Linked DNA regions of Homo sapiens: region 1 is linked to region 2. Evidence: fine-mapped expression QTL. A gene starts in region 2. The other region holds a variant in brackets. All regions are shown on one strand. Distances are from middle to middle.

Region 1 (2,904 bases), 530 kb after region 2:
CTGCTTGGAGCCCCTTGCCCTCTACCCCTACCACCAGGACCACTGGCCTCGCCTTTTACCACCTTTGCTAAGAGGAGCTCTGGAGACCCCACTCAGGAAAGGGATAAGTGCCCACATGCATAGGGCCCTCACCCTCCACTGGGCACCCCCTCCCTGGTCACTCACCCATCACCCTGCACCTATCTGCCCAGCTTAGGGGCCTAGAGTCTCCACTGGGTGTGGCCGAGGCTCATCCTGGCCTTCTCTGTGAAGGGCACCCCTCTGGCCTCTGGCCTCAAGGCTGGATGCAGGGACTGGGGCAAAAAGCACTGCGCATCCTCCACCTGGCCCACACACCCTTATTCAAGCCAGGTGGCAACCAGCCCATGGGGAGCCCCAAGCAGCTATCAAAAGGGGAAGCAGAGCCATGATTTTTTAAAAAAAAAAAAAAAGGGACCCAGCAGGTGGGGAAGGTGAGTAGCGGGGAGAAGCGAGGCGGCCTTGCTGCCAGGCAATCAGGCTACTCTCGGCCTTTCCAGACGGTTTGCCTGTCATCGGGCACCCCATATTTAGCACCAGTGCTTGGGCCCCCACCCCTTGTCTGCCCTCCAGCCCACCCATTTCCGAGAGCTCAGCCTGGCTCTCCACTGCCCAGAGGAGGCCCTGGGGGCTTTGGAAAGAGCAGAGTGGCCAGCCACTGCCACCCAAGCAGGAAAACCATGGGGTGGGGTACACTGTGTACAACCATACCTGGGAAGACCGGCCTCCCAGGCCGGTGCTGGGGAACTAGAGAAGTGAGTGCCAAATCCCTGCCCTTAGGGAGGGGCAGTGGGGGTGGGTGCACAGCCCTGAGGCGGCACCTGAGCAGGCAGCGTCCAGAGAGAACCTGGGGCCCCGCAGAGTCACGGCAGTCAGTGGACAGAGGCCCATGAACACCCAAAGACAAAAACAGGTACGCGCACATACCCACGGGGGTGTATGCCCTGGCACGCTCGTTCCCGGACACATGCTGCACACACGCCATCTATATGCCTGCCCCTGGCCCATATCTGCACACACAGGAGCTGGGTCCTCGGGGACTCTTGGGAGCCACCATGGCAGTCACATGGGCAACCTGGGCGAGCCGGGGGCTGGCAGCACGTTAGTGCTCACCACACTGGAGGGAGGCCTTGGAGGCGGTGGCTCCCACAGTGAGTGGCCCACCATGAATAACTCACTTCCTTCTGGAGCTCACCTGCAAGGCATGAAGCTTTCTGAAGCAGGAGGTGGGAGGTTCAATGCCCATGGTGTGTCCCCAGAGCCAAGCTCAGTGAAGGGAAGCAGGGAAGGGAGGGGCGGAGTGGAGCTGCGACTAGAACCTGCAGATGATAGAATGTTCTCCTGGACAGTACCTTCAAGGCTGCAAAGTCCAGAGGCTCCATTTGCATATGAGAAAAGTGACAATTAGGGGAGATTCATTTCTGAAAAGGAGTGAAGCAAAAGAAACAAGAGAGGCGAGATCAGAAAGGAATGGGGGA[A/G]GAGAAACCCGGGGGTGCAGATCCCCCGTGCCCCTCCACATCCCGCCCTGTCCTGCAGGTGCAGGGCTCCCTCCAGCCTTCCCCCTGGGCCCCCCAGCTCTGTCCCACCTTCCTCCCCTCAGTCGTCCTGCAGCAGAGCTGGCAGACCCAGCCTTCCTCCCTGGGATACCCGCTGCACGGGGCCTGGGGTCCCCCGCGAGCTAGGGGCCCAGGAGGTGCTGGGACCTTCCACGGGGACAGAGAGGGTGTTGGTGCTGGGGCACGTGCCTTCCCCTCACCCTCCTTTTGTTTAATGAACACATCTCCCTTTTTCTCTAATTAGGTGGAACAAACAACTTGAACCAGAATTTTTATTTCCCAGAAAAGCACACGCCTGGACCCAGTAAATATGTCATTAATCATCATTCCGAGGCGGAGGAGCACGCTGGGTGCAGGGAGGAGGGGGAGCAGTCAGAGGGCCTAATTAGAGCTGGGTCCCCTCCCTCCCCTGCCACTGGCACCCACCGCCCAGAGCCCATCCGTTGGAAGGGCTCCTGGCAGAGTCAAGCTTATGTAAATGTCCCTTGTTAGCACAACGGAAATGTAAAGAAGAGAAGAAGAATACCAACCTGCTCCTCACCACCTCCCCGCCCCTGCGCGCCCTACCCGAAGTCTTAGTTTCATCCAGGAAATTGTTCTTATTATCACTTGGCTATTTATAGACTCGATGAGGTCTGCTGAAGAGCCCAAGGCAGGGTGGTAAAGCGGTGCCAGCTGCTGCTCCCTCCCTGCCCGGGCTTTGGCTTGGGGTTCAACTTCACTCCTCTGCAGTGGTCCTGCCCCCGGCTTGCTGCATCTGGCCACGTCACTCTCCTCCAGCCCCTCTGCCCAGGGCCGTGGCTGGCACCCTGAGTCCCAGGCCTGCAGCTGCACCGCGTGGCTCTCTAGAATGTCACAGTCCGGCTTTGCCTCCAGCAAGATGTGCTGTTCTATATAGAGGCTCTGGCCCTGTTCTCCTGACGCCACGAGGTTTGCCCCAAGTTGAGAAAAACCTCACTGAATTAAGGACCCAGAATGTGGGGTTCTAGGAGCTTACAGGTTTCTCCCTGTGGCCCTAACTGTTCCCATCTGTCCTGCCAAGAGCACGGTACCCACCGTCCAGCACCCCCGGGGCTGCAGCAGAGGCTGTGGCTCAGGGTTCACCCATTCTTAAGTGCAAATCCTAGCTCCACCCAGCAAGTTCCCGGCTCACTTGGAACACAGGTTTCTCTTTGGCTAATCAAAGATAATGCTGCTGTCTTCCGGGGCCCTCATAAGAATTAGAGACATTGCCATTGTCACTTTATGGGAGGTTTTGAGGGAGGAGTGGTCTGTTCATCTACTCCCTGGCTCCAGTCGGGGGAAACAGGACTGCACCCATAGTGAGGTT
Region 2 (2,904 bases):
TGCAGTTAAATAAACTATTAAGTTAAGAATAGAAAAGTCAACAAAGCAGACACCTACTAATTTGTAGATCTTTGGTGTCAACTACCAGATGTCAGCTCCTACTAGCACACTTCTATATGCCCCTGCTTCTTTCTTTCTTGTTCACAAATACCAAGGGATAATTTTTTAAAGTTAACATCCGCATGGAAACTTGGAGTTGGAATGTGCCTTGTAGTGAGCAGAGTCCTCAAAAGATGTGCTACTACTGAAAGAGGAAAGGCTAAGAGTTTCCCAAAAGACCTCCCCAAGGTCCAGGGACTGAAGACAGTAATGACTGATTTTAGAATTGAATGCTAAATGGCACATGTCAGGGGAGCGTCTTTCATTTTCCTCTCCTCTCTCTTTACCTCTCCTTCTCACAGTGCATAACGTTGAATATTTTTCTGTGTTGTTTTGTTATGTCCTTAGAGTTTGCATCTTGTGTGTGTACTCTGCTTGCACACTAGATTATGAGCTTCTGAAGGCATGGTCTGTGCCTATTATTTTGCTTCCCTCCATGGCCTGCTTATACCAAGCATGCCTAAATGTCTATTAAGTAAATAGACCCAGATAAATTCATGTTGATATCCTGGAGGAAACCGAGTTTGATTTGAGTGTGGAGTGTGAATTTCATGACAGGTAAAAGGCTTGAAGATCCTTAGGACGCAGTTGTCTATGACCTTGGCCTCTCCTTTGCAATTGGACTCACAGCACCTCTTGGAGAAAAGACAGGCTCAGAGTGATGGAGCGCTCATTAGAGGAGAGGCTCTGAATGCAAAGACAGGCTGCTCCCCTGTCCTCGTTAGGAAATGCACAAACCAGGATAATGATAATAAATGGGTGTGTGTCACAAGCCTACTTGCCTTCCCTTTAGTTCCTGCATTTTGTCTTCCAGGAGCAGTGCAAAGCAAACTAAGATCCAAATGTTCAGGTTTTATTACCTACCCCCCCCCCCCACCACAACCACCCACCCACCCACAGGAAACTCTCAGAAATGCAAAGCATGCTTATCTCTTCTCCAACTCCGAGCCTCCCGCTGCACACATTGGCCAAGTCCTTCCGAGGGAAAGATGCGCACCCCCCCTTCCTAGTTCCCTTTCAGCCCAGTTTCCAGTTCCTTTGCAAAGGCAGGGCGTGCATGTTTTTGTGCACATGCATGTGGATAGTCATCCTTAACTTCACTGTTAAACAGGACATCGTGTGGACAAAAAGTCACAGCTCCACTCCAAGCTCAAGATGCCTTTTGGTCAATAATGGTGACAAAAGCTGAATTTTTCCCTATTTAGGGAAAAGAAAGAACACAGCCTTTTCCCCCACTGTCCGTTTTGCATAGATCTCCTTTTTCCGAGTGTTTCCTCTTTAATTATGACCTGTCTCCCCTCCCTCTCCCCTCGCCTCAGCTTCAGTGAAAGGAGTCCTTCTGTCACTCGTCACTAGCTCGCTCGCTCACTGTGGGAGGAGCCCGCCTGAGGAAGCCGTGTGCCTGGGATGCCAAGAGCCAGAGAATGGATCTTCTCCGAGTGGGGACATTGCTGACAATCCCGGCTTCCCGAGGCGGCTAAGAACAGGCAGTTTGTGTCGGCTGGCTGCAGATACCCAGAGGCACAAAGAGACCGAAGCCACCCGGAGGGACCCACGGACGGACAGATGGTAGGCGCGAACCCGAGAGGACCGGCGGAGGCTGAGCACCGAGAGCCGCCAAGGAAGAGAAACTAACCACAGCCAAGTTACCCCGCCGGCTTTCCTTCGCTGCGCTAAGGAATGAAACCCTTCCAGCTCGATCTGCTCTTCGTCTGCTTCTTCCTCTTCAGTCAAGGTAGGACCCCTGCGCTGCTGGAGTTGGAAGAAAGTCGGCTGGGTTGTCAGGGCGCGGGAGGCTGTGGGCAGGAACGTGGGCAGGCTTCGGGAACTCGGACTGATGGATGCGTCTCTCGGTGCCGGGCTGAGATGCTCTGGCATTGCCTCTTCGCCTTTGCGAATGCAACAAAATGGTACTGTTTATTTTCCTTTGGAAAGAAGGGGTATGGGAGGGGAGGGGAATGACTTTCTCCTCTCACTTGTCAATATCCAGCTCAAACTCTCCAATGCAAATGAGTTCTTTATGCTTCTGGTATGTTAATTAGGTAGTATCTCTGTGGTTATGCCGCTCTGAACTTCTGGGCACCTCCTCTCCTTCAGACCCAGGCCAGGGAAGGAGACGGCAGGGAGGGAGAGCTTGGTTTAGGTGGATATTTCAGCTTGAATAGGGTTTGACTTGCACAAGTGTATTCAAAAGCGAATGTGTGTGGTTTGCACCGTTGAAAAGGGGGTTGCAATTACAGAATGTATTGTGGGGGGTAATTTGCAGTGGTTGGGAAAAGCTTGTAAAGAGTTTCATTGAACGTCATCGAGTTCCCTAAATTAGGTTGAATTCTGAATCCTACACAGCACTGAATTCAGGGTATAAAATGAAATTTCGCCCGTGGTGCTGATGGTTTCCTTTCTGCAGCCTAGCAGGGGCAGAGAAGCAGGTGGACTCTCCGGAAAGAACTTTGCCACCTCTAGGCTCCTTGCCACTGGGAGCCCTGGGGCTGGTAGTGGTGCAGAAAGGAGAGGGAAATTCGGGAGAGGGAATGTGAGTGCCTAGTTGGCCAAAGGCATCAAAAGTCACCTGTGGAATTGAGTTTGGAGGGGCAAGTACATGGGCTCCTTCCCGCTCTTTTGGAATGCCAATGCACCTCTGCCATCTGAGGCTGCATTTGTGCCAGCCAACACAGCTCTTAGAGGTGCAAGACTCAGAAAAAATCCACAACAGAGCACGTCCATCTGTTGATTAAATGAAGGGTAAAAGTTTTCGAGAAAGCAAAGCACTGCCATGGGTGGCTGGCTTTGCAAGCAAACAGCATG

The links. PIP is the estimated chance that this variant, and not a neighbour inherited with it, causes the effect.
Region 1: its variant is fine-mapped to the expression of KIRREL3 in whole blood (TOPMed, PIP above 0.99).

Annotation. Positions count from the first base shown.
Region 1 is chr11:126,465,157-126,468,060 of GRCh38, reverse strand. The region is part of intron 5 of KIRREL3 (kirre like nephrin family adhesion molecule 3); the gene reads left to right. Among named protein-coding and RNA genes, the nearest start is that of KIRREL3-AS1, 77 kb to the left of the region's middle. RefSeq lists enhancers at 670-1,217, 1,218-1,767, 2,315-2,374. The variant A/G (reference allele first, on the strand shown) is at 1,497.
Region 2 is chr11:126,999,385-127,002,288 of GRCh38, reverse strand. KIRREL3 (kirre like nephrin family adhesion molecule 3) reads left to right here and starts at 1,519. Exons shown (of 17, transcript NM_032531.4): 1 at 1,519-1,834. The coding sequence starts at 1,780.